Linked DNA regions of Homo sapiens. The protein of the gene in region 1 purifies or fractionates together with the protein of each later gene. This does not show direct contact. Each region holds a gene or a part of one and is shown in the gene's direction. Other genes may lie near its edges.

What was found.
Region 2: the proteins of SCGN (region 1) and ATF2 purify together in Homo sapiens (affinity purification with mass spectrometry; 3 studies listed by BioGRID and IntAct, with this or other methods). This does not show direct contact.
Region 3: the proteins of SCGN (region 1) and BBX purify together in Homo sapiens (affinity purification with mass spectrometry; 3 studies listed by BioGRID and IntAct, with this or other methods). This does not show direct contact.
Region 4: the proteins of SCGN (region 1) and ESYT1 purify together in Homo sapiens (affinity purification with mass spectrometry; 3 studies listed by BioGRID and IntAct, with this or other methods). This does not show direct contact.

What each region holds. Positions count from the first base shown.
Region 1 is NC_000006.12:25,683,200-25,690,227, forward strand, and holds part of SCGN (secretagogin), read left to right. Parts: intron 1-5,972; coding exon 5,973-6,018; intron 6,019-6,273; coding exon 6,274-6,333; intron 6,334-7,028.
Region 2 is NC_000002.12:175,158,196-175,165,223, reverse strand, and holds part of ATF2 (cyclic AMP-dependent transcription factor ATF-2), read left to right. Parts: intron 1-7,028. UniProt on the Homo sapiens protein: Transcriptional activator which regulates the transcription of various genes, including those involved in anti-apoptosis, cell growth, and DNA damage response.
Region 3 is NC_000003.12:107,798,934-107,805,961, forward strand, and holds part of BBX (HMG box transcription factor BBX), read left to right. Parts: intron 1-2,161; coding exon 2,162-2,348; intron 2,349-6,436; coding exon 6,437-6,524; coding exon of another isoform or gene 6,525-6,594; 3' UTR 6,595-7,028. UniProt on the Homo sapiens protein: Transcription factor that is necessary for cell cycle progression from G1 to S phase.
Region 4 is NC_000012.12:56,131,248-56,138,275, forward strand, and holds part of ESYT1 (extended synaptotagmin-1), read left to right. Parts: coding exon 1-69; intron 70-229; coding exon 230-319; intron 320-501; coding exon 502-557; intron 558-961; coding exon 962-1,085; intron 1,086-1,173; coding exon 1,174-1,350; intron 1,351-1,471; coding exon 1,472-1,554; intron 1,555-2,169; coding exon 2,170-2,218; intron 2,219-2,340; coding exon 2,341-2,427; intron 2,428-2,533; coding exon 2,534-2,626; intron 2,627-2,832; coding exon of another isoform or gene 2,833-2,862; coding exon 2,863-2,934; intron 2,935-3,094; coding exon 3,095-3,181; intron 3,182-5,496; coding exon 5,497-5,646; intron 5,647-5,970; coding exon 5,971-6,126; intron 6,127-6,251; coding exon 6,252-6,428; intron 6,429-6,584; coding exon 6,585-6,667; intron 6,668-6,778; coding exon 6,779-6,827; intron 6,828-6,935; coding exon 6,936-7,025; intron 7,026-7,028. UniProt on the Homo sapiens protein: Binds calcium (via the C2 domains) and translocates to sites of contact between the endoplasmic reticulum and the cell membrane in response to increased cytosolic calcium levels.

The sequences.
Region 1 (7,028 bases):
CGCCTCTGCTCCCTGGATCCCACCTGGTTCTCTTGGTCAATGGAGGCAGGGTTCCTCTCAAGTAGAGGTCAGAGAGCTATGTGAAAGAGCCAATCCCAAAGCCACCAAAGGATTCATTCAATAGATGACAATCTAGATGAAAACAAAAGCTTGCAATCTCATGGTTCCCTTCACCAAAAGCATCTATCCACCTGTGCCCTGACTCAGTTGTGCACGTCTCAGAGGTAGTGAGAGTTGAGGAGCCCTGTGTGCCCTGGGAGGCTGGGGTAATAAAGGGCTCAGAGCAGCTGCTCTCTGCCCTCTTAGTCCATACACAATATGACCTACCTATGTATACAATGCTAAAATAACTAACATCATGCACAGACTGTAACATATAAAGGAGAAATAAAAGGAAAGCAGTTAATGATAAAATAATGCACATTTCAGTGTATAAGTGCTTGCATACAATCATAGTGAAGATATAGTGAAGTGGTCAGATGCTTTCACCTGGGTAGAATTATCATAAATGGGGCAGCTCAGATGCCGACTGATACAATTGTGACATTTTGGTAACTCAGGTGCTGTTGATATGATTTTATGAAATAATAAGTCTTGACAGAGTTCCAAATGAGACAAAGTATGTTAATCTCTTAACACAATTCATATACCATGTGGAAAATTTATGTAAGTAGTAAATTATGCAAACCTTGAGTTTTATGCAAATAAGAATTCAGTTCCAAGCACAAATAATTAAAAGCAGGGTTTTTACAGTCACGATTGCCCCCTGGACATTTGAAATTCAAGTGAGACATGGGGCAATTCTTCATTCTGCAGAAATTTCCATGCAATGCCAGAAACCTAATATCCCTAGCCCTATGTACAAAATGCTAGTTGTGCCCCCTTTATCACTGTGATAACTAATAGGGCCTTCTGCATGAGTCTAAACACTCTGTAGAGGCGGGTTTGCTATGGTCCTGCTGGTAGGGCAGGGACTATGCTCTAATCCCTTGAATAACTTCTCACTTGGTGGAGTGTTGTGTACTTGGGGGGATTCAATGAGTAGTTGTGAATTGATGGAGTTACAGTAGCACTGAACAGAGATGAAAGGCAGCAAAATCAGTTAGTATAGTACAGTCTTCCCTAAGTATCCTCTGGGGATTGGTTCCAGAACCTCCGCGGATACCAGATACCCAAATCCTCGGATGTTCAAGTCCCACAATTGGCCCTGAAGAACCCACAGATAGGGGGTGCCAAGTGTATTTCAAAACCAGTTTGATACGGAATTTGAAAATGTGAACTGTGGTAAGCAGAATAAAGATGTCCACGTCTTAGGCTGGGTGCAGTGGCTCACACTTGTAATCCCAGCACTGTGGGAGGCCGAGGCAGGTGCATCACTTGAGGTCAGAGTTTGAGGCCAGCCTGGCCAGCATAGTGAAACCCTGTGTCTACTAAAAATACAAAAAATAAAATAAAATAAAATTAGCTGGGTGTGGTGGTGCATGCCTGTAGTTCCAGCTCTTCAAGAGGCTCAGGCAGGAGAATCGCTTGAACTCAGGAGGCAGAGTTTGCAGTGAGCCAAGATTGCGTCACAGTACTCTAGTTAGGTGACTGAGCAAGATTCTATCTCAAAAAAAGAAAGGAAAAAAAAGATATCCACATCCTAATATCCAGAACTGGTGACTATTTTATGTTACATGGCAAGAATGAATTAAAGTTGCAGATCTAATTAAGTTTGCTAATCAATAGACTTTAAAATAGAGATTATTCTGGATTATCCACATTGGGCCCAATATAATAACAAAGATCCTTTAAATATGGAAGAGGGAGGCAGAAGGTCAGAGTCACGGAGAGATTTGAAAATGCTAGTTGCTGGCTTTAAAGTGGAAGAAGAGGCTAAAGAATGTAGGCAGCCTCTAGAACCTGAAAAAGGCAAGGGAAAGGATTCTCCCCGAGAACCTCCAGAAGGAATGAGGCCGTGTCGACAGCTTGAATTTTGCCCAGTGAGATCGATTTCAGACTTCAGCTTCTAGTGCTGTAAATGATTATGGTTATTTGAAGCCACTATGTTTGTGGCAGTGTGTCGCAGCAGCACTAGGAAACTAATACAACAACAAAGAGGCCTTAAAACATTTCCAGATAGGATTTTTCTCTCTCTACTTTCAGCTGTGAAATGCAGTTCAATTCCTCTACATAAAAGCACCTCCCAAGTAATATGTGCTGTGACTGGCAACATGATTTAGGCTGCCTGGTGCCTGCAAATACTAAGAACAATATTCCTGGCAGACCTCCAGGATATTCTGTCTTCTAATTGGCTCAAATTAATTCCCTCTACTCTGAGCATTTGGAGGAGCAAAGATTTTCCACATAGTTGTATTACATTTTTTCTACTTTTTCTATATATCCTCATGACTATGAATACAACATAAATCTAATGTTGAATTTACTGAAACTGACTGTATTCTATTAAAGTATAATTATAATTATAATTATACAGAAAAGAGGCAGACATATTTGCTTTCTAAAACAAAAACAAGATTATTTTAAAATTGAGACATAATTTATGTACCTTAAAGTTTACCCTTTTAAAGTCAGATCTACCAATCTACAATTTGGTAGATTTTAAGATATTCATAAGGTTGTCCAACCATCACCAATATCTAATTTTAGAACATTTCATTATGCCAGAAGGATACCCAGTACACATCAGCAGTCACTCCTCTCTTCCTCCTCCCACAAGGCCCTGGCAACCACCAATCTACTTTCTATTTCTATCGACTTTCCTATTTTGGGCATTTTATATAAATGGAATCACACAATATGTGCCTTTCCTATCTGGCTATTTCACTTGGAGTAATGTTTTCAAGGTTCATTCATGTTGTAACTTTATCCCTTTTTATGGCTGAATAATAGTCCCTTGTATGTACATACCACATTTTGTCCATTCATCAGCTGATGTTCATTTGAGTTGTTTTCACTTTTTAGAGATTATGAATAACGTTGCTACATGTTTTGGGACAAATATACGTTTGTGATTCTCTTGGTTATATATTAAGGAGCAGAATTTTTGGTTCGTGTCGTAATTTTACATTTAATTTTCTGAGGTACTGCCAAAGTGTTTTCTAAAGTGGCTGCACCATTTTACATTCCCACCAACAATGTATCAGGATTTTAATTTCTCCATATTCTAATCAGCACTTGTTATTGTTTGCATCTTTCTTTTAATTATAATCATCCTAGTGGGTGTGAAGTAGTATGTCATTGTGATTTGCATTTCGAACATTTTTTATGTTTTATTGGCAATTTGTATGTCTTCTTTGGAGAAATGTCTGTTCAGATTCTTTGCCCAGTTGAAAAATTGGGCGATTTGTCCTTTTGTTGTTGAACTATAAGAGTCCTGTATATATTCTGTGCACTAGACACTTATCAGATGTATAATCAGCAAAAACTTTTTTCCATTATGAGAGTCGTGTTTTCATTTTCTTGATGATGTCCTTTGAAGCACAAATGTTTTTAATTCTCATGAAGTCCAATTTGTCTAATTTTTTTGGTTGTTTGTGTTTTAGATGTCATATCTAGGAAGCCATTGCCAAAATCCAAGCTCATGAAGATTTACCCGTTTGTTTCCTTCTAAGAGTTATATAAACTATAAAGTTTCTGTTTTATGTAAATCCTTTTCATGTTAATTGTTTAATACAGTGTAAGGTGGGGGCACAATTTCATTATTTTGCATGTAGATATCTACTTGTCCCAACACCATTTCTTGAATATTTTTCCTTACTGAATGGTCTTGGCACCCTTTCTGAAAATAAACTGGCCATATGTATGGGTTTATTTCTGTACTCTCAATTCTATTCCATTTATCTACATATCTGTCCTTATGCCAATATCACACTATCTTGATTCTGTAGATTTGCAGGCAAATTTTGAAATAAAAAATGTGAGTCCTCAAACTTTGTTCCTCTTTTTCAAGATTGTTTTGGCTATCCTGGTTCATTTGCATATTCACATTAATTTTAGGACCAGATTGTCAATTTCTGCAAAAAAACCAATTCAGATTTTGATGGGGATTGTTTTGAATCTGCAGATCAATTTGGGAAGTGTTGTCTCCTTAAAAATATTAAGTCTCCCAGTGTATGAACATGGGATGTCTTTTCATTTACTTAGCTCTTTAATTTCTTTCAACAATGTTTTGTAGTTTTCGGTCTACAAACTAAACCACTTTTGTTAAATTTATTAAATATTTTATTCTTTTTGATGCTATCATGAAACGATTAGTATTCTGAATTCCACTTTTGGACTGCCCATTGTTAATGTATAGAAATGTCATTGAATTTTTTATATTAATCTGGTATTCTGCCAACATGCTGGATTTGTGTATTAGCTCTAGTAGTTTTTTGTTGGATTCCTTAGGATTTTCTATATACAATATTGTATCATCTATAAAGAGATAGTTTTACTTCTTTCTATTCTGCCAATCTCTGCTTTTAATGGAGTATTTAATATGTGTATATTTAACGTGATTACTGAGAAGGTAGGATTTATATTTGCTATTTGTTTCTCTTTGTCTTAAGCTTTTTTAAAATTCTTCTGTCCTTCCATTACTGCCTCCTGCACGTTCAACAGACATTTTCCAGTGTACTATTTTAATTCCCTTATTATTTGTTTTGCATTTTTTTTGAGTTATTTTCTTAGTGGTTGTCTGCTAGATTACAATTAACATCTTAATTTATATCAAATCTAATTGTGGATTAATAACAATTTAATTTCAATATTATACCCCAAATTTTACTTCTGTATAGTTCAAATGCCTTTCTCCTCCTTTCTGTTGTTAAAATTTTATCTTTATATATTGTGTGCTCCACAACATAGATTTTTAGTTATTGTTTTATGAAATTGTCATTTAAATCAGAAAGCAAAAAAGTTACACACAAAAAATACATTTATGCTGTGTTTTATATTTGGTTATATATTTACCGCTCCTGGTGCTCTTTATTGTTTCATGTGGATTTAAGTTAATGTCTAGTGTCCTTTAATTTCAGCCTGAAGGACTCCCTTTAGTATTTCTTATAGGTCATGTTTCTGGTGTATTGATGACTTTTGTTGTTTATTTGGTGACTTTTCTGAACTAATTCTATGAAGTCTATATTCTTTGTCAGGTGTGTCCACTGAAGTCTCTGCTAGGTTAGTTCAATGGTCAGTTCATAATTGGACAGAGATTTTCTAAAATGTCTTGAACCAGTAAGTCTCCCAGTCTCTTGCTAACGGGCTCTGTGTATGTGTTAGGGCAAGTTAAATGCTACGACAGTCATTGTTCTAACCAAGATTCAGCTGTTTTGGAGGCCCGGTGCCGTGGCTCACGCCTGTAATCCCCGCACTTTGGGAGGCCGAGCCCGGCGGATCACGAGGTCAGGAGATCGAGACCATCCTGGCTAACACGGTGAAACCCCGTCTCTACTAAAAATACAAAAAAATTAGCCGGGACTGGTGGCGGGCGCCTGTAGTCCCAGCTACTTGGGAGGCTGAGGCAGGAGAATGGTGTGAACCTGGGAGGCGGAGCTTGCAGAGAGGCGAGATCGCACCACTGCACTCCAGCCTGGGCGACAGAGAGAGATTCTGTCTCAAAAAAAAAAAAAAGATTTTTTTCAGAATAAACACTCCCCAGATTGCTGCAAGACTTTAATTATTTTCCAGAGCTCTGGGAAAGTTATTTTGACTATTTTTTCCAGTTTTATGGAGGAGCGAATTTCCAGAAGCCCATACTGTGCCATTTTCCACTAAGATGAACTTTTAAAAGTCTATGGTGACTACTAATCTCTACGAGTTTTTCCCAATTAATTTCTTTGTTTCTGTGATGTAGGAAGTTCTGTCTTTCAAGTACCTATTCTGTTCTGCAGGAAATTGCCTGTACTTTCCACACACCAGGGCTATAAGTTTTCGTATAACTGAGAGCTGAACGATCCTTACGTGGATTTTTTTTTTTTTCTATTTAGGATTCTGGCTCTTCAGGAAAACTTCCTTCTCCAATTTAAAATGGATGTAAGTAGTGACATTTCTCTAGATGGGTTTATGTCATTGCTGTTTCTCTACGGATTTGAGCAGGAAAGAAGAAAGGAAGGCATCTATTTGCCCTACTTTTTAACTTATTTAGAAAACAGACAAGGATCAGCATGGAATCAAGGGATCTTAAAGGTCATTGACTCAAAGTTTACAAAATTTGCCCAGGACTCTGGAAGAATTGTACAGCTGAATTGTCACATTGCTGGACTGACATAATGTTTTTTCCTTACACAGGCTTGTTCTACTGAAGAAAGGAAAAGGGACTTTGAGAAAATCTTTGCCTACTATGATGTTGTAAGTGTGCGTCTTTATACTGTGCTGGCCATCTCTGAGTAGGAAACTTATTTAACCCCTATGTGGAGCCATCTTACCCAACAGACCCTAAACTTACATGATGAATACCAATCCCATCTGTGTGTTCTAGGTCAAGGTACTCTCAACTCCTCTAGACCTTCTGAGAATAAAGTAAAAGTAGCCAAAGGAGTACACATGGTTGAGAAGAGAAAAAAATGACTTTTTTTTTTGACTCCTTGGGCCTAAACTATAAGTTTTCTCCCTCTTGTAGGACTAAGAGTTCATTTATAATATCATACACAAAAACATACAACCCTCCCACCCAATATTCAACCCAAAGAAATAGAGGAAAAGTCATACCTATTTATCATAAAAACTATTTTTTCTTGTAGAACCAATTATTTGATGAAAAGGGGAGAATATAAAAATTATAAGTACAAAGTATGGCAAAGAGATTGAATTTCCTAAGGACATGATAGTATGATGTAAGAAGGAAGAAAAGTAGAAAAGCAGAAAAAATGTTGGGAAAGGTTATAAGGATGTTTCCCTGAAACTAATCAGACTAGATAATTATGTGTCATGTTCTGAGCAGAAAACAGTATCACCTGGGAGAGGCAGTCTAGCATAGAGGTGGTTAAACACGTGGCTTCTGTGACCAATTACCTAGGTTTGAATCATGGCTTATTACCTATGTG
Region 2 (7,028 bases), on another chromosome or scaffold:
CAATAATTAATATTCAACTGATTTTTATAAAAGTCAATGCATATAGCACCTGTTGGGTTATTTTGTATAATTAAAATGTACCCTAAAAAAAATCCCACCTTAGCCAGGTGTGGTAGCTCACGCCTGTAATCCCAGCACTTTGGGAGGCTGAGGCAGGCGGATCAGCTGAGGTCAGGAGTTCAAGACCAGCCTGGCCAACATGGTGAAACCACGTTGGTAGGCGCCTGCAATCCCAGCTACTGGGGAGGCTGAGGCAGGAGAATCGCTAGCACCTAGGAGCAGGAGGCTGCAGTGAGAGCCGATCGTGCCACTGCACTCTAGCCTGGGCAACAGAATGAGACTGCATCTCAAAACAAAACAAAAACCAAAAAATTCACTTAGTATTGTTATAATCTGGAGTTTAATTTAGTATTTCTGTGTTTATCTCATACTCACACCTGTTCCTCAAGGCTAAGAACTTGTCTAAAATGCTGCATGTTCTCTTTATGTAAGTTTTAATGTTGAAGTAGTAGGATAGTATTCACCTATTTCTATTTGAAGGAAAACCCCAGAGAACATTTTATTTCCTTTGTTATGTTTCTCAAGGTTAAAAGGTTATATAGTAAGGTATAAGATAGTTTCATAGAAAATCAAGGAAATTTGTGGATCTTTAAGGCCATCAGTAATTGTATTTTATCTTATTTTATTTTTGAGACAGAGTCTCCCTCTGGCTTCCACGCTGGAGTGCAGTGGTGCAGTCTTGGCTCACTGCAATCTCCACCTCCCGGATTCAAGCGGTTCTCCTGTCTGAGCCTCCCGAATAACTAGGATTACAGGGGTGCACCACCATTCCCTGCTGATTTTTGTATTTTTAGTAGAGATGGGGTTTCACCATGTTGGCCAGGCTGATCTCGACTTCCTGGCCTCGAGTGATCCACTCGCCTTGGCCTCTCAAAGTGTTGGGATTACAGGCGTGAGCCACTACACTAGGCCTATTTTTACACATTATTTTATAATATAAATATATTTAATGTTACATATTATATAAATATAAATAAATATGTATTCATTATATGTGTCTTTTCAATTTGTTGAGACTTTTTGACAACCTTGAAACTGGTGTATTCATTTTCACTTTTAAGGCATTACAGGCATGAGCCACTGCACCCGGGCCTATTTTTACACATTGTGTTACAGGTGTATTTAATGTTACATATTATATAATTATAAATAAATATGTATTCATTATATATATCTTTTCAATTTATTCTTGTTGGCAACCTTGAAACTAGTGTATTCATTTTCACTTTTCTTTTTTTTTTTTTTGAGACGGAGTTGCTATGTCACCCAGGCTGGAGTGCAGTGCCGCTCTCAGCTCATTGTAACCTCTGCCTCCCAGGTTCAAGTGATTCTCCTGCCTCAGCCTCCTGAGTAGCTGGGATTACAGGTGCCCGCCACCACACCTGGCTAATTTTTGTATTTTTAATAGAAACGGGGTTTCACCATGTTGGCCAGGCTGGTCTCGAACCTGCCTCGGCCTCCCAAAGTGTTGGAATTACAGGCATGAGCCACCACCCAGCATCATTTTTCATTTTTTAAGTATGTTTATTGATTTTTTTTCCTTGGCATTTTGACATTGACAGTAAAGAAGAGATGTAAACAATGTTTTGGGGGCTTTGCCTATTCACCCATATTTGCATTCTGTATCTTAACAAAGATAGTGGTTCTCAGCCACTTTTTTGCCTTTCTACCCAAGGAATACAAAATACTTCCAACAGTAGTAGTGGCTTATTACCACAGAGATTCTCAACAAGACTGGTAGGGAAAGACAGGGAGAAATAATTGTAATTGGCAAAATACCATATGGACTTTGGTTATTTTTGTAATATATAGTATTTTTATCTATAATATTGACCATAAGTTTATAAATATATTCCCTAAATATTCTTTAGTTTGCTAGCAGAACCGAAACCTTTGTCATTCTAATTTTTTTAGCTTTGCTCCAATGTTATAGCTTTGGTTTTTCTAATTTTACTGTTCGGGCTAGTATGTTTGCTTGCATTTATTTATTTATTTATTTATTTATTTATTTATTTATTTATTTATTTTTTGAGACAGAGTCTCGCTCTGTTGCCCAGGCTGGAGTGCAGTGGCACGATCTTGGCTCACTGCAAGCTCCGCCTCCCAGGTTCATGCCATTCTCCTGCCTCAGCCTCCCAAGTAGCTGGGACTACAGGCACCCACCACCACGCCCGGCAAATTTTTTAATATTTTTAGTAGAGACGGGGTTTCACCGTGTTAGCTAGGATGGTCTCGATCTTCTGACCTTGTGATCCGCCCACCTCGGCCTCCCAAAGTGCTGGGATTACAGGCATGAGCCACTGCACCCAGCCTGCTTTTATTTATTAAACGTGTCGGAACAATTTTTTTATATATCAACTTGTTTTGCCATACTAACAAATAATTGTGTTCATTATTTTTGTTTTCTTCTAGTTTGTGCATATATATTGCAGTTTTTACAGAATTATATCAAATAAGTTTTATTTTACTTTTATAGCATTGTATTTTTCCATGTTGTATAACCTTTATGATATTTGATTGTTACTTGATAGTTGAAAAATAAGTATTAAATTTGTTCTAAATGCCTGACAGGAAAATAATAGTTTTCAGTTTATGCCTATTTTGACATTGAATTGAACATCTCTGTGCATTTTTTCTTTTATGAATTGTTTCTATAGGATACTAATCTCAAATGAATTACTAGTCAAAGGATATAAATGTTTCTACAGTTGCCAGATTTTTGCCTCCCCAAAGACTTGAGCGAGTTTACACTGTCAGCAGAGCATGAATGCGTTAGCTTTGCCATACTTTTGTGAACTTGGGAGTTATGATTAATGAAGCGTGATTACCTAATTGGGAATTATTTCTGGGAATAAGTTGTATTATTTAGCAGTTTTAAAATTATTTAGTTGGCCATATCATACTATAGTTATTTATCTACCAGTGATCTATGTGATGTGACAAATATTGTGTATTTCATATTTTCTGACATTTTACTGTCTTTGTTTCTTTTAAAGTTTACCAAAACTTTTGACAGACTGGTAACAATAATTCTTAGATTTCATGCAGTTTTATGTGGTTTGTACACTGAGTATTTTAATGCTAGTTTAAGAGTTAATTTCTGGGCTGGGCATGGTGGCTCATGCCTGTAATCCCACCATTTTGGGAGGCCTAGGCAGGTGGATCACCTGAGGTCAGGAGTTCGAGACCAGCCTGGCCAATGTGAGAAAACACCATCTCTACTAAAAATACAAAAATTAGCTGGGCATGATGGCGGGTGCCTGTAATCTCAGCTACTCGGGAGACTGAGGCAGGAGAATTGCTCGAACCTGGGAGGCAGAGGTTGCAGTGAGCCAAGATCACGCCAGTGCACTCTATCCTGGGCAACAGAGCGAGACGGTGTCTCAAAAAAAAAAAAAAAGAGTTACTTTCTGAACTATACATTTCATAGTTCTGTCTTATGAATGTGTCATTATGATTTATTAAGATTTATAATGACAAATTCATTTCCATGTAGGAAACACTTGGAATAAAGAAAGTGTATATGAGTATATGATAGCCAAATTGACTGAGTTTTGTCCCTGGCACATAGTTAAGTGTGTAATCAATATTTTAGGATAGTTATTAGAAGCCAGATTATCAGGGGTCTACCACTTACTGTGTTATCTTGAGTAAATTATATAACCTCTCTGCCTCAGTTTCCTTCTCTTTAAGGAGAATAATTTAACTCATAGTCTTGCTGTGAGCATTCATGTGATATATATACAATACTTAATACAGTGTCAAGAACTTAATGAGTACTCAGTTTGTGTTGTGGGAATTATTATTGAAGTTCATTCAGAAATAATCTAGCCTAGCCCTCCAGGCATGCTTGTGCTGTAGCTTGAAAGCAGTACAGCAACCATCTACTTGGTAGCTTTGGCAACAAAGTTATTTTTCCCTAAGAATTTATAATTTGTGGAGGAACATGCCACCTTAGAATTTTCGTAAATTCATTTGAGAGAATGTCTCATATTTTTTTGTTCCATATGTACCCCTTCTCAGACATTTTCTGTATCAAATTCCTTCAGTATAGCATATCCTTATTTTAAGATGATAAAATTATGATACTGTGATTTTCATAAAATCCAATTATCTTTGTATTTTTGAGACAAAGTCTTACTCTGTCATGCAGGTTGGAGTGCAGTGATGCGACTAAGTCTCACTGCGGCTTCCACCTCTGGGGCTCGAGAGATCTTCCCACCTAAGCCTCCCAAATAGCTGGGACCACACTCACATGCCACCACACTCAGCTAGTTTTTAAATTTTTGTAGAGATGGGGTCTTGCCGTTGCCCAGGCTGGTCTCAAACTCCCAGGCTCAAGCGATCCTCCCACCTCAGTATCACAAAGTGCTGGGATTACAGGCTGCTCCCCACCCCAACTATTCTTTTCTTCTACTCCACCAATCCTATTATAAACATTCTAGGGAAACCTTTCATTTCTCCTTCCCCATAGTGGGATTGAGATTATGATTAAAATACCACAGTTCTAAAGTTGTTTTGAAGTCTCTGCTAATTATACAATTATAACTACACTATCAATTTTTGGCCACAAAGTTGAGAATCAGTGAAATATTTTATCATTTGTAAGGTAGGTTTTAATGATTGTTGATATATGGATGTTGGGTCGAGGGATATTTTTTGTAGTAATACACTTTACTTACTTGAATTTTGACATACTTTGAAAACGGAAGAAAGAGGTGAGCTTATCATTGTTTTAATGGGCATAGTACATAATCCATAGTCTTACTTTATTTCATTTTTAGAGACAGGGTCTCTATCACCCAGGCTGGAGTGTGGTGGTGCAGTCGTAGTTCACTGCTGCCTCAAACACCTGGGCTTCAGCAATCCTCCCACCTCAGCCTCCCGAGTAGCTGGGACTACAGGCATGTGCTACTATACCCAGCTAATTTTTTAATTTTTTGTAGAGATGGAGTCTCACTATGTTACCCAGGTTGGTCTTGAATTCTTGGCCTCAAGTAATCCTCCCATCTCAGCTTCACAAAGCGCTGGGGTTACAGGCGTGAGCCACCACACCAAGCCGGTAGTGTATTTTATTTGTGCCCTCTTCATAATGAGAAATTTTTATTGATGTATTTTTCATAATGGTGATGACTATGAATTACTGTAATTCTTGGAGAACTGAATTTCTATTTCTATTTTCTTTTTGCTTTTACAAAAAATAAGTTTCTCAGGAGAAAAAAAGCAATGAAAGGTATTTTATCACCTACCTTGGGCAAAAATAATGCTATGGACCTTAGACCACATAATTCTGTTACCAAATCTAAGGTGATGTTATTAGCACAACTTGTGCTACTGTTGTTTATATTCATAATTATTACTCTGTAAATTTTTTGTATTTATGTATTTGTTATTCTATTATAATTTTAAACTATAAAACTACTTGCTTTCTTTACATTGCCTAGGAATAATCAAGACTCACTTAAAAAATATTTAATTTAAAAATTGGACTACTGATATTTTAATTGAATATTTTTGAGATATTGAACTGATTTCACTCTTCACATACTCATAATACAGTCTGGAGAAGTTTGTGATACTTTTTACGTGTACCATCAACTTTGAGAAATTTCATCAAAATTTTAGTATACTCTTGGGAATTGTGTGAAGGACCTCTCTCATGTCTGCTGTGAGTGGGGGAAAAAATACTGCTGCTTTCCTTGTTAACATTGGGCTTAATATTTTTCTCTCAGCTGATGAATTTGAGTTACCTAAATTGATGAACTAAACATTATATATCAAATAAACTTACAGATAGCATCAGAATCATGGGTTAAAGATTAATATAAAACTTTTTTTTTTTTTTGAGACGGAGTCTTGCTCTGTCGCGCAGGCTGGAGTACAGTGGTAGGTTCTCAGCTCACTGAACCCTCCACCTCCCAGGCTCAAGCAGTTCTCATGCCTCAGCCTTTTGAGCAGCTGGAACTATAGTCTCCGCCACCACGCCCCGCTGATTTTTTTGTATTTTTAGTAGAGACGGGGTTTCTCCATGATGACCAGGCTGGTCTTGAACTCCTGACCTCAAGCAGTCTGCCTACCTTGGCCTCCCAAAGTGCTGGGATTACAGGGTTGAGCTATCATGCCTGGCCAAAACTCTTATCTAAAAGTCAAACTGAGTATGTAGTTCAGTTTCTGGCCTTAAAAATAAAGAAGATAGTAAGATTAGGTATTTATTAGGCATTAGAAAAATGTACATTTAAAGTCAAAGTAAAATGCAGTAAAATTTATGAACTTAATAAATACTATTTTAGTGTCATGCACTATTCTGTGTATTTTACATATGTTACTTTTATATATTTTGATAGCCCTGAAATGTATTTTTTTTTTTACTGTAGAGGATCATAGTGTAATCATACAATTTAAAATTTTCCTGGCCAGGGGCAGTGGCTCACACCTACAATCCCAGCACTTTGGGAGGCTAATACAGGAGGATCATTGCCTTGATTAATGGAGGCTTTAAGTCACTCTTATTTTAAATTATCCATTTAAAATATCCACTTGGGTTCCTGTAGAGATGACCTCAGTTTCCAGTGTTCCCCCCAGACGTTTGCTTCTTGCCGTAGGATCAGGAAGCTTTAAGGCACTCTTATTTTAAATTATCCATTTAAAATATCCATTTTAAGTTATCCATTTTAAAATTATCCCTGGATAATTTAAAATAAGAGTTTGAGCTCAAGGAATTCAAGACCAGCCTGGGCAACATCGTGAGACCGGTCACTCCAAAAAAAATTTAGCTGGGTGTGGTGGCATGTGTACCTGTGGTTCCGCCTACTGAGGAGGTTGAGGTGGGAGGATCACTTGAGCCCAGGAGATCCAGGTTGCAGTGAGCCATGGTTGGGCCACTGTACTTACAGAGCAAGACCCTGTCTCAAAAAAAAAAAAAAAAAAAATCCTGAATTCAAAATACTTTAGTCTTGAGAGGCAAGTGA
Region 3 (7,028 bases), on another chromosome or scaffold:
AGGTCAGGAGATCGAGACCATCCTGGCTAACACTGTGAAACCCCATCTCTACTAAAAATACAAAAAATTAGCCGGGCCTGGTGGTGGGTGCCTGTAGTCCCAGCTGCTTGGGAGGCTGAGGCAGGAGAATGGCGTGAACCCGAGAGTCGGAGGTTGCAGTGAGCCGAGATCGCGCCACTGCACTCCAGCCTGGGCGACAGAGTGAGACTCTGTCTCAAAAAAAAAAACAACAACAACAAACACAAAAAAATCTCAGAATGTTTTAAGAAAGTTTACGAATTTGTGTTGGGCTGCATTCAAAGCTGTCCCCAGCCACATGCAGCCTGCAGGCCATGGGTTGGACAAGCTTGCTTTAGACAGAGATAACCAGAGCAAGCAGATGACCACCATGTCAGCAAATGACTGTAAGCAACTGTGGTTCCTACTGAAAAATGAGTCTATTCTGCAGCTTTCTACAGACCTCCAAACATGTTTTATTCCATGTTTAAAATCATAGCTAGTTTTCCAAGAGCATATCTGAATTCCTAGAAAAGAAAGGTAGTTTTTAGGACTGTCATCTTCCCTTTATCTTTCTCAATGTGCACAAAAGCAATCTTAATTCCAGGAGATCCTATACTTTTAAAGATACTAGATGAATCAGTATTTGACCATGGTCTGCTGTTCGGGTCACTACAAGCCAGATTACCAGGCATTCAAACCAGTAGATTAAGCTTAAAATGCATCCAACATTCACTTCCTATATAACTGGTTTAGACCATGCAGGGAGCCTGAGAATGCTTCTGGATTTCTTGAGTTATCTGATTTAATTCACCAACTGGTGAATTTCTCCATTTTCAATCATGGCCTGTTGTCTGTTTGCTGTTCCTGGTAGCCTCTTTGGCAGTAGAATGACCGGAGGAGCCCAAGGTAAGGGGTGTGGCCGAAGAGTGATACTGAGACCCCCCGGCCGCAAAATCTTGGAGTGCTATACCAGCTAGGTACTAGTGGCCTTGGCTGTTGCCTTTCTGCCTCTCAGCACCTCCGCAATTTTATTTTATGTGATTTGGGTTAATCTAGGTGTTAATAGAGGGGAACTGTTTGCTTAGTTAGAGGACAGTTTATGAATTTTGTGCACTTCTTTTGTGTGTTTTGAATATTTAGATTGTTAGAAACATAGAGTATATTAAAGGCCCTGATTTTGCCCTGTCATATAAGAGAAAAAATTCAAAGAGGTGGAAGTTTTTGTTTGAGTACATTCAATACAATAGAAGTAGAATGAGGACTAACACCTAGATGTCCTGATGTTTAGCCCAGCAGTCCCCTCCCTCCTTTTCTGTCCAATCTGAGTTCTGTTCTGTGACTTTCATTTTGTAGATTGTTACATCCACATTTGTTTTCACTTGGAGGAGGAGTGAAGAAATATGAGAACAGTCCCATTTACATAGAAAAGTGTCATACCACTTTTGTGTCCTAATAGATAATATTTAAAGCTTTTATCAGTCATTTTCTATATTTACAATTTTTTTAAAACTATGATAAAAATTTCCCTTCTCTATAATGGCTACATAAGAAAGAAAGTATACTCATTTGTAGCAGGCATACTTGCACAGCATTTCATCCACCTCTTTGTAAAGACCAGAGGGCTTTGTCTTCTCTCCAGTAGGTCTTTAGAACAAAATAACAACTTGGGCTCTCATTAGAACTGGTTAATGTGCTGTATAGGCCATCCTAAGTGTTGGTATCACAGCATACCCAATGTCCAAGTTGCCATAGTAGGGCATGCTACAGCTTCATGAGAAATGCTTAGTCAGTTGGGTTTTTAAGGGCTCTTTTACAGCATCTACAGGCCCCTCTACAGAAGTCCCTTGGGTTTTATTTTAGCTGAGGCTCATTTTTCCTTCTCACTCCAAGACTGACCCATTCTTTGACCTCAGATAAAACACAGCTTCTCTTCAGCTCAGCCTCAGGGCACAGTGCTGTCCATAGTTGCAACTAAGCTTAATAAAAGAGCTTTGTTACTGAGGAGAAGAGATTCTGTAAAAGCCTTAATATTCGATGGATAGCAAAAGTGAATGGTAGAGAATGTTAGCTCTTTTCATGTTGACTGGCACAGCGTTTTCTATGTCTCTTCTCTGGAGAGAACAGAGTGATCCTCTCATGATGGATTTCTCTTTTGTTACAGATGACAAACCAAAGGAACAACTGCAGAGGAGTCTCCCTAAAGCAACTGAGACAGACTGCAATGACAAATGCTCACACAACACCGAGGTCGGGGAGACGCGGAGCAGTACTCCAGAAATGCCTGCCGTGTCTGCGTTCTTTAGCCTCGCTGCGCTGGCTGAAGTGGCAGCCATGGAAAATGTGCACAGGTTAGTGGTAGAAGGTGGAAGGAGAAAGCAACATGGAAACCAGATCAACCTCTTTGATGTGATTTGTGACATTTTTTACAGGGCATTGGGGTTCAAACTTGGTTCAAGAGCACTATTGGTTATATGAGGTATTACAAAAGCATATATGCTAATTAGCAGTGCGGGAAAATACCAGGGAATATAGTCAGCCAAGTATTTTATTTTGAATATGTTATCCTGTGGCTAAACTTCATTTCCGTAAAAAGCCTGAGAGCAGGGAAGCAGTATTATCTGACCAATGAGCTTTGGAGTCCCATTGCAGACTGAGGTTTGAGTCCTAGCTCCATCACCTGCAAACCGAAAGATCTTGACCAAGATTATTAACCTCTCTACCCTTGGTTTTTTTCCTCTAAAAAAACAGGGGCAGGTGGCACTCATTTCACAGAGATGTTATGTGGGGTAACTCTAGCATCCCAGTGCTGGTGTGTGGAATGCCCCTTATTGGTGATGGTGTTGGTGCCATCACCAGCCATCAGAAGACAGTGCAGTTCAAGGGAAAGAGCATTTTGGCATCTGACTCATGGCAGCCAGAGGCCTGGATTTTTCTTCAACTCTTCTGTGATTTCCTACAAAGTAATTTTTTTCTCTGGACTTTAGTTTTCTCAGCACACATTGAGCATAGTGATATCGCCAAAGAATTACGAAGTTGTAAGCATCAGACGAGATCATAGATGTGAAAACCCTTTGAACTCAGCGAAGCCCCACAGAAAGTATATTAAGTTCTAAGTGTATAATTGGGTATTCTGCTACTTAATGGATCCTTTGGGAAGGCAAAAAAGCCTGTTGTAAATTCAGGTATTTTATATTCCTATTCAAAGTGGATTACCCATGGATGAGCTGCTTTCTTAGACTTTCAGTCTTCAGTACAAAAGAGCTCTCAACCCAGTGCAGCTTGTGTAGCCAGCTGTAGGCCCCATGCTCCTTTTTGACATCCAGGTAAACCTGGAGTCCCCTGACGTGAGCTTGGTTTGCTTCTTGCTATTTACCTGTCATATTACAGTTTGAGTACTTCCTCACAAATAGCCTCTAGATATTTCCAAGAAGTCAAATTCCTCTTTATGTGTACACTGCAAGTTCCTAATAGCAAGTGAATGCTCACAGACATTGTTAAAATTCAGTGAGGTCTCTGAGGGAGACAATGCACAGATACTTCTCCATTTGTGGAGTTGTGCAGTCAAGGATAGAGGACAAGCACATACACGTGCAGTGAGAACTTAAAATATCTGCCTGAATGTTATTAAGTGTCCCTGTGAATTGTGGAAATAAGAGGGAATCTGAGAATTGAGAGAGGGATAATAATTCAAGGGTAGGAAAAGGCTAGCACATAAGCAGCTTGGCTGCTGCCTGTGTTCTAAGCGTGGTCACACCGTTGCTCTGTTAACCAGCCCTCCATGGTTCCCAATTTGCATCAGCAGAAAGCCACAGCAAACCTTTCCAATCTCATTGTCTCTGCCCTCCACACTCCCTACCCTGCAGTTAGGTGGAATCACTTACCCCTTTCCAGATACGCCAAGCTCTTGCCTTGTACATCCTCTGATCAGGTGAACTGCTCTCCTTCTCCCCACCCTAGTCCCCGGTCCTCTTCTCTCAGTCCTCCTGATGCCCTAGGCTGTGTGTTTCTTGTTGCTCCTGCATGCTATGCTCACACCTCTCTCAGACCACATTGGGATGTATTGATTTGTCGATACTTCTGTCTACTTTCAGTATATTTTGAAAGCAAAACAGTGGTTTTATTCTCTATGTTACCAGCTTGCTTAGTTCCTGTTATAACAATTGATAAATGAACAAATGAGTGGGTGAATGAATAAATGAGGTAGTTTCTGAAGTATGACTGCCTAAGTTAGATAACAGGTATAGAAAAAATAATGTGAGTAAAGATTCTTTTTATTTTTTTTAACCTTCCATTAGAAAGAACAGTAATGATTACTAGAATTTTACCATCAACCTAATAAATGGTTAGTGTTCTTAATAGCTAGAAGGACAGATCACCCTGGAGAGTCTTAGCTGTAACTTGAGCCCCTACCTGTTAAAGCAGATCTACCCACCAGGCTTCTACCTGTAGGCTCACTGTTATTGAACCTGGGTTGCATACCAATGAAGTAAGCATTACTTCAGCATCAACTCGGTTCATAGTTTAAAGGGTGGCCCATGGAGTTAGGGGTGGAAATATACGACCTGCACTCATGCCATGAAAAAATCTAACGTTAGGTTCAGAAACCTAACTTAGACAGTTTTACAAAATACACAAAATAGAGAGTTGGAACAAACCTTTGTTAAGAGACCAGTTTATTTACTAGAAGTTAAATTAGCCCTCCCAAGTGGGCCTTTTTAGTCCCATTTTAATGACCGTTAATTAACTTGCCAAGAGCACACAGCCAATTTGTGCCCAAGTCAAGATTTGAACTCCTTATCTCGCGTACTGCCAAAGGAAAGCTTCAGTCATGTCAGAGAAAATCATGAAGAATCTCACCTGACCCTTCCTCTGGGAGCTAGAATCATCAGTTGCAGCACATAGTCCTCTCCCACTGTGATTCTGACTTCTTTCCTTTTTCCATTGATTTAGCTGGACTTTCACCCCAATTTCTCTCTCCTTCTTGCCATCTTTTTTTACATTGCACTTTTCATCTTTTTTGTTTTTTTTTTTCCTTTTCTAATACTTATTAAAATTCTTTTGGGTCTTTTAATATCTTAAAAGTAAAAAGTAGCATTTTAATTTCATCTTTCTTGAACAAAGAGCTGAACATATTGAACAGGTGGTATCTATAACATCCACATGTGAATAGCTTAATCCAGAGGTTTGATTCTAAAATGTTTTGCTTTTCTAAAATCCTAAATATCTTGGGCTATTAAGTGATCATTTGATTCTGAAACCCCCAAATGTTGCAATTTGTCTACATTATTTTTCTTTTTTGTGCATCAAGAGAAACTTGAGTATAGTTATAGAGCAGGTACAAGCTAAATCTTGAAATAGCTCCTTTTGTTCTATGTACTCTGAAGAAGATACGATTTTGAAAGGTCATCCCAATGAAAACATTGCTGATACATCACATATTTTCAGCACAGTGTTATGCACTACAGACCATTGTAGGTTACAGAGCAGTGAGTGTGCATTTTCTAGGATTGGTAGGCCTGTTGGAAAATGTCAAGGAAGTACCCAGTCCTATCTTTTTAGAATGAGAAGCTCTGTAGAAATTACCAAGAATTTTGGACAGTTTTCTCATAACCATGAAGTAAATTGTATTTTTACTACTAATTATACAAAAGCTGAATGAAAAATCAGCTATGTTTGGCATAGGTTCTATCCAAATGATGAAAATTTCCATGAATTTTCTAGTCCTGTCTGGAGTTCTCCCTCCATGTGTATTGATTTTCACCCAACTAGGGTAGATTTTGTTAAAATCTAAAATCCAGCATCAGTGCTTGTTTTCTTCCTCTAAACACTCTCTGTCCATGTGCATGTGAGTTCAGAGGGTTTTATTGTTTCTTCATTCCTTTTTTTTTTTTTGGAGTCACAGTCCATCTCTGTTTCTCTTCCAGAGTCATTGCTTTTATTATCACTAAATTACCTGAAGGTTACCAATTACTATAGGAGAACTTTCCCTTCAGGCAAGTCAAGAAAAGGAATGTGTCATTTTTAATACCAATGGATCAACAGGAAAATTATTGTCCAAGAACCCCAGTCCTTGATTGAAATTTTCCCACTTCTTAAAGAGTTGCCCCAAATCTGTTGGTACTTAAAATTTCATCTCTTCAAAATGGAAGTGGTTAGTTGTTTGAGGCCAGAGGGTATGCTGTTGAGTTGTATGAGGGGAATTCAGATATAAAATCTTAGGAAGGGAGACAGAATGGGAAGGAGGAAGGGGAAAAAAAGGATAAGGAAGGGGACAGAAGAGAAAAAACTCTAAAGCAAAAACAGTTTTCATTAAATGATGTAAGTAACAGCAGTAACTGTTAAACAAGATATTGGAACACACTTGTTATTCATCGTCCTCTCCTGTCTCTAATAACATATGCTGAATAAGTGACTTTTTCTTCCTTTTATTTTACAGAGGTCAGAGGTCAACTCCGCTCACCCATGATGGACAGCCAAAAGAAATGCCGCAGGCTCCTGTACTTATTTCCTGCGCTGACCAGTGAAGCGCCCTTTCATTGTAAAACATTGTGCTTTACCTACTACCCTAGCCTTGTCTTTACCGAGGGATGCTAGTGAGTCCAAGTGGTGGAAAATATAGACTGCAAACAAGTGCTTGTTGCCCCACACGGCCCAGATTCACTTGAAGCAGAAGTTAGCATCCTGGGCCAGTTTGTTCTCTCAGAACCCAGAATCTTTGAGGGTAAGGTTATCTGTCTGATACTGAGCAGAAACAGAATGATCCTGGAGCTTTGCTTTCTATTGAAGGCTTTTGACGGTAATAGGTGGTAACTTGGTAAAAGGCTGCCTTTACTGTAGCTCACCCAGCATCTCTTTTACCAACCAGAGAGTGTGAAACTAGTTTCATATATTACCTAGTTATTCTTTCAAAACAAAACAAAAAAAAAACAAAAACTGACGCACTGCACTAGTTATTATTAGATATTCTTAGTCTTTTTTGTACATGGAGATTTAAGTTTAAGATGGTTTATATAATAGGTTATACCTAC
Region 4 (7,028 bases), on another chromosome or scaffold:
GTAGGTGATGTGCAGATTGATGTGGAAGTGAAGAAATATTTTTGCAAAGCAGGAGTCAAGGGCATGCAGGTAGGCCAGATGTCAGGGGCCACATAATAGGGAATGTTTGTCCTGCGTTTCATGGGATATGGGGAAGTGTGAGGTTGGAAAGACCAAGGCTGAGAAAGTCTGGGAGGACAGAAGAGGGACTTTTCTGGGGAAAGGCTTTGATTTTCTCTTCTTGCCTCAGCTACATGGCGTTTTGCGGGTGATACTGGAGCCACTCATTGGGGACCTTCCCTTCGTGGGGGCTGTGTCAATGTTCTTCATCCGACGCCCGGTAAGGGAAAACAATGAAGGGGTATGGGGAAGCAGGAGAAACAGAGGACTGGGAGGATGAGGGCAGCCAGTGAAGGGGAATGAGAAGGGAACTGACAAGAAGGCCGAGGGGTTCTGGCAACTGTTTGATGGGTATGACCACACCCCATAGGATCTGTCCTGACCCCTGCTCTTTCCCTCCAGACCCTAGACATCAACTGGACAGGGATGACCAACCTGCTGGATATCCCAGGACTTAGGTATCAAGGACTTACTGAGCACCTGCTGAGTGTTCCAGCGCTGGGTTGGGGGTTTAAGGGACACAGAGCAGTCAAAGATGCTGCTTGTGTCCTCTAGGAGCCTCAACTTCATTTGGGGAGCAAAGACAAATACCCCTGCAAAGTTTGATACTGTGATTTTTCTTTGGGTTGGGGGAGCAGGAAGGGAATGCAGAGGGCTGAAGACTGCAAAAGGCAATGGGGATGGCAGTGAAGAAGGGAGAGAGCAGTAGGTGGGGAATTAGGGTAGAAGAGTAGCACAAAGGATTTTCACAAAAGGACTTTCTTACAGCTTTAGGTCTCTCTTGGGTGTGGGAAACATAGTTGGGGTTAGGAGAAAATTGGAAGTTGAGGCCATACCCACTCCTTTCTACTCCCCCATTCAGCTCACTCTCTGACACCATGATCATGGACTCCATTGCTGCCTTCCTCGTGTTGCCCAACCGATTACTGGTGCCCCTTGTGCCTGACCTTCAAGATGTGGCTCAGTTGCGTTCCCCTCTGCCCAGGGTATGGCCTTTCCCCCACTAGATAGATCCTTCTCTCAGGAACCCCTTGCTGGGTCCTTAGTTTCTCACCATCTGATTCCTTCCTCCAGGGCATTATTCGAATTCACCTGCTGGCTGCTCGAGGGCTGAGTTCCAAGGACAAATATGTGAAGGGCCTGATTGAGGGCAAGTCAGACCCATATGCACTTGTGCGTTTGGGTACCCAGACATTCTGCAGTCGTGTCATTGATGAAGAACTCAACCCACAGTGGGGAGAGACTTATGAGGTGGGAGAGTTGAGCAGCTCTGTGAAATGGGGAAGCCCCAGGAGGTTGTGAGAGAAGATGCTGATTGGATGATCCTCACAGCTGCAGCCCCATGAGACACTCAGCCTTCTGTGTTCCCCAGGTGATGGTACACGAGGTCCCAGGGCAGGAGATTGAAGTGGAGGTGTTCGACAAGGATCCAGATAAAGATGACTTTCTGGGCAGGTGAGACTCTGCCTGTTAGGATTCTAAAGCCCATGCTGGCCAGGCACGGTGGCTCATGCCTGTAATCCCAGCACTTTGGGAGGCTGAGGCGGGCGGATCACGAGGTCAGGAGATTGAGACCATCCTGGCTAACACGGTGAAACCCCATCTCTACTAAAAATACAAAAATTAGCCGGGTGTGGTGGCGGGCGCCTGTACTCCCAGCTACTCGGGAGGCTGAGGCAGGAGAATGGTGGGTGAACCCGGGAGGAGGAGTTTGCAGTGAGCCGAGATCGCGCCACTGCACTCCAGCCTGGGCGACAGAGCGAGACTCTGTCTCTAAAGAAAAAAAATAAAAATAAAAAAAATAAAGCCCATGCTACCGAGGTTCTGGAGGTAATTATACTCACTTTCTGGGCCTGGGAATCATGTATCATTTTCCTTCCTAACCTCCCCACCCCCAGCCCCTACCATGCACATACTCACGCATGCAGGTGAATATCTTCTGAGAGGAATAAGGGAGTCTGAGATCTGCCAGTCATTTCTGGGTGGGTGAGTGGAGGGCCACTGACATGCTGCTAATTACAACACTACCCTTTTCTTCCTTTCACTACCCTCTCCCCCGCCAACCCTCAGAATGAAGCTGGATGTAGGGAAGGTGTTACAGGCTAGCGTTCTGGATGATGTAAGTTGGGAGAAGAGGAAGGTGGGGGCTGATCTCACCCTTTGGGTAGATAGTAGTTGCTACATTGGTAGGGAAGTAGTTGAGCAGGTATCTGATCTCTACTACATCTCAATTTCTTCTAGTGGTTCCCTCTACAAGGTGGGCAAGGCCAAGTTCACTTGAGGCTAGAATGGCTGTCACTTTTGTCAGATGCAGAGAAACTGGAGCAGGTAAGCCACATGGGAAATAGGAAGCTGGCAGGGGAGAAATAGGTAGCTGGAAGTGTAGGGGACTTGGAACGGGGACCAAGATCTGACTACTACCACCCCTCCCCAGGTTCTACAGTGGAATTGGGGAGTCTCCTCTCGACCAGATCCCCCGTCAGCTGCCATCTTAGTTGTCTACCTGGATCGGGCCCAGGATCTTCCTGTGAGTTTGGCTGGGTGAACAGGAGCCCTGGATGTAACATTCCCCAACCCTGCCTTGCTGAGGATGCAAATGTCCCTGCCTGCTTTGCTCCAGAAGTATCAGCATGTAACATAAGGGTCCCAGGGAGGGGATCAGATCCATCTCAGGGAAAGGATTCTGATGCGATCCCACCTTCCTTCACCAAAACCAAAACCGAATCCCCCAAGATGGTGACCTCTGAATTGTACCCACCACAGCTGAAGAAGGGGAACAAGGAACCCAACCCTATGGTACAACTGTCAATTCAGGATGTGACTCAGGAGAGCAAGGTGAGGGCCAGGACATCATTGTGGGTGGCCAGGTAGGACAGGGAGAGGCCTATTCTTGGGATGGTTTCCCCTTTAGAATGCCTGTTACATGCAGGGGTTTTCTGCAGAAACAGGAATGGTGCTGTGGTATACACCCTTAATCCCTCCTCTACATCTCCAGGCTGTCTACAGTACCAACTGCCCAGTGTGGGAGGAAGCGTTCCGGTTCTTCCTACAAGACCCTCAAAGCCAGGAGCTCGATGTGCAAGTGAGATAATCACCTCTTCATCCCCTCCCGAATACCCTATTCTGACTTCCCAGATCTGTACCATTTCTCCTCTCCTTCTTTTCCCTTGATTCCTATTTTTAATCCATCTACCTAGACTCCCCACCTCCCTGAATATCTCTCCATTGTTCCCCAACTGTCGCTCCAGAATAATATTTTTTTTTTTTTTTGAGATGGAGTCTCGCTCTGTTGCCCAGGCTGGGGTGCAGTGGTGCGATCTCGGCTTACCGAAACCTCCACCACCTGGGTTCAAGCAATTCTCCTGCCTCAGCCTCCCGAGTAGCTGGGATTACAGGCAGGCACCACCATGCCCGGCTAATTTTTGTATTTTTAGTAGAGACAGGGTTTCACCATGCTGGCCAGGCTGGTCTCGAACTCCTGACCTCAGATGATCCGCCTGCCTCAGCCTCCCAAAGTGCTGGGATTATAGGCATGAGCCACTGCACCTGGCCTTAGTTCATAGGTACTTGTTCTTGAATGATTTTATATATGTGTGTCTTGTCTATGAAACTGGCCAGTAAGCATTGTGAAAGCAGATGCTATGTTTCGTGCTTTCTCCATGACCTTTAAAATGCTGAATGTTAACAATTTTATTGAGGCATAATTTACATACCATAGAATCACTCATTTTAGGTATACAAAAATTATTCTGAGGCTGGGCACGGTACCTAAAATGAGTGATTTTATGGTATGTAAATTATGCCTCAATAAAATTGCTAACATTCAGCATTTTTTTTTTTTGAGACAGTTTCGCTTTTGTTGCCCAGGCTGGAGTGCAATGGCGTGGTCTCGGCTCACCGCAACCTCCACCTCCTGGGTTCAAGTGATTCTCCTGCCTCAGCCTCCTGAGTAGCTGGGATTACAGGGATGTGCCACCATGCCTGGCTAATTTTTTTTGTATTTTTAGTAGAGACGGGGTTTCTCCATGTTGGTCAGGCTGGTCTCGAACTCCCAACCTCAGGTGATCCGCCCGTCTCAGCCTCCCAAAGTGCTTGGATTACAGGCGTGAGCCACCGTGCCCGGCCCAACATTCAGCATTTTAAAGGTCATAGAAAAAGCACAAAACATAGTATCTGCCTTCACAATACTCACTGGCCAGTTTCAGTTTCATAGACAAGACATACACATATAAAATCATTCAAGAACAAGTACATATGAACTAAGGCCAGGCATGGTGGCTCACACCTGTAATCCTAGCACTTTGGGAGGCCAAGGCAGGTGGATCACCTGAGGTCAGGAGTTTGAGAATAGCCTGGTCAGCATGGTGAAACCCTATCTCTACTAAAAATACAAAAATTAGCCAGGCATGGTGGTGCGTGCCTGTAATCCCAGCTACTTGGGAGGCTGAGGTAGAATTGCTTGAGTCCGGGAGGCGGAGGTTGCAGTGAGCCAAGATAGCGTCACTGCACTCCAGCCTGGGTGACAGAGTGAGACTCCGTCTCAAAAAAAAAAAAAAAATCAAAAATTTGCCAGGTGTGGTGGCATGTGTCAGTAATCCCAGCTACTTGGGAGGCTGAGGCAGAAGAATCATTTGAACCCGGGAGGTAGAAGTTGTAGTGAGCTGATTTCAAGCACTGCACTCTAGCCTGGGTGACAGAGCAAGACTCTGTCTCCAAAAAAAAAAAAAAAAAAAAAAGGAACAGAAGAATAGCAACAATTACATATGAATTTGTGGGAGTAAAATATCCATAGTATAGGACTAAGGAGGGTCAGAGAAAGGGATAGGCTGGAGTAACTAGGGAGATTTTGTGAAGCAAAAAATTGGATTTTAATTGAGTCTTGAAGGATGAGTAGGATTTAAATAGGCCGAGGGAAGAGAATGAGGACTTTCCAAATAGTGGGAGCAGAATGAACAAAGGTGGAAGGGGCCATGGATTGGGCAGAGGACTATAAAAGATGGCTCTGGCCGAGGTGGGCGGATTGCCTGAGCTCAGGAGTTTGAGACCAGCCTGGGGAACACCATGAAACCCTGTCTCTACTAAAAAATACAAAAATTTAGCTGGGCGTGACGGCATGCGCCTGTAGTCCCAGCTATTTGGGAGGCTGAGGTAGGAGAATGGGTTGAACCCAGGAGGTCGAAGTTGCAGTGAGCCAAGATGGCGCCATTGCACTCCAGCATGGGCGACAGAGTGAGACTCTGTCTCAAAAAAAAAAAAAAAAAAAAGATGGCCCTGAGTGGAGCAGGAGGTTTGTGATTGGTACAGAGAGGAATGAAGTTGGAGCCATGTTATCATTTTCACAGTATGCCTCCCTTTCCCCTAATCCCTTCACTACAGTCCTTCCTCCTGTGCCTGTAGGTGAAGGATGATTCCAGGGCCCTGACTTTAGGAGCACTGACGCTGCCTCTGGCCCGCCTGCTGACTGCCCCAGAACTCATCCTGGACCAGTGGTTCCAGCTCAGCAGCTCTGGTCCAAACTCCAGACTCTATATGAAACTAGTCATGAGGGTATGGAAATAGAGGAGGTACTGAGGTGTGGGGGAAAGGCCTGTTGATTCTTTGGTATTAAGAGTAAGGAAAGGGACCCCCCTAAGATTAAAAGAGCTAATACATGTAGAAGTGCCAAGCAGGCACAAAAACATATATTGATCTGACTGGTGGAAGGAATGGCTTATGAGTTGAGGGGGTGTGGAGGGAACCCTGTAGAGATGAGCCCAGCCAGGGCAGCACCTAGTTCCCCTGTCACAGCCCCTCCTCTACCCCACCCCACATGCTTTGCCTGCTGGTGACGAGCTGCACTTCTTTGATTCAGCATCATACTACCCTTCCTAGATCCTGTACTTGGATTCATCAGAAATATGCTTCCCCACGGTGCCTGGTTGTCCTGGTGCTTGGGACGTGGACAGTGAGAATCCCCAGAGAGGCAGCAGTGTGGATGCCCCACCTCGACCCTGTCACACGACTCCTGATAGCCAGTTTGGGACTGAGGTGAGTCTATATCTGGAAAGGACTAGGGTCTGTTTGCCCCGCTAAGTATGCAAAGCCTGTTTCAGGGCAGATTCTGACAGGTCTCTCTCCCTTTGCCATCTGGCACCCCCCCGTCCCTTTTGCAGCATGTGCTTCGGATCCATGTATTAGAGGCCCAGGACCTGATTGCCAAAGACCGTTTCTTGGGGGGACTGGTGAAGGGCAAGTCAGACCCCTATGTCAAACTAAAGTTGGCAGGACGAAGCTTCCGGAGCCATGTTGTTCGGGAAGATCTCAATCCCCGCTGGAATGAGGTTTTTGAGGTCAGAATTGAGTGGCTGTGACTCCTGGTTCTGCCCCATTTTTCCCCCAATCCCAAAAGTGGTCCAGAAACCTCTGAGGTTCAGTTGACTGGGGGGTCCAGTCATTTGCAGAGGAAAAGGAGAGAATCTTTCATCTGCACTATTTTCTCCCACTAGGTGATCGTCACATCAGTTCCAGGCCAAGAGCTAGAGGTTGAAGTCTTTGACAAGGACTTGGACAAGGATGATTTTCTGGGCAGGTGAGAGCATAGGAGTCTACGTGAAAAACAGGCTGGGGCTCTTTAGGCCATGGAGTCTGGCCTCCTTGGTTCTCACCATCTAGCTTTTGTCTTAATCTTTCTCTTCAACAGGTGTAAAGTGCGTCTCACCACAGTCTTAAACAGTGGCTTCCTTGATGAGGTGAGCATTGAATTAGAGTCAACAACCCCTCCTGATCCTGCCCAAGCTTCATTCTCAAAGTTCTCCTGTCTGCATATCCCCAAGTCTTCACCCTGCCTACTTCCACAGTGGCTGACCCTGGAGGATGTCCCATCTGGCCGCCTGCACTTGCGCCTGGAGCGTCTCACCCCCCGTCCCACTGCTGCTGAGTTAGAGGAGGTA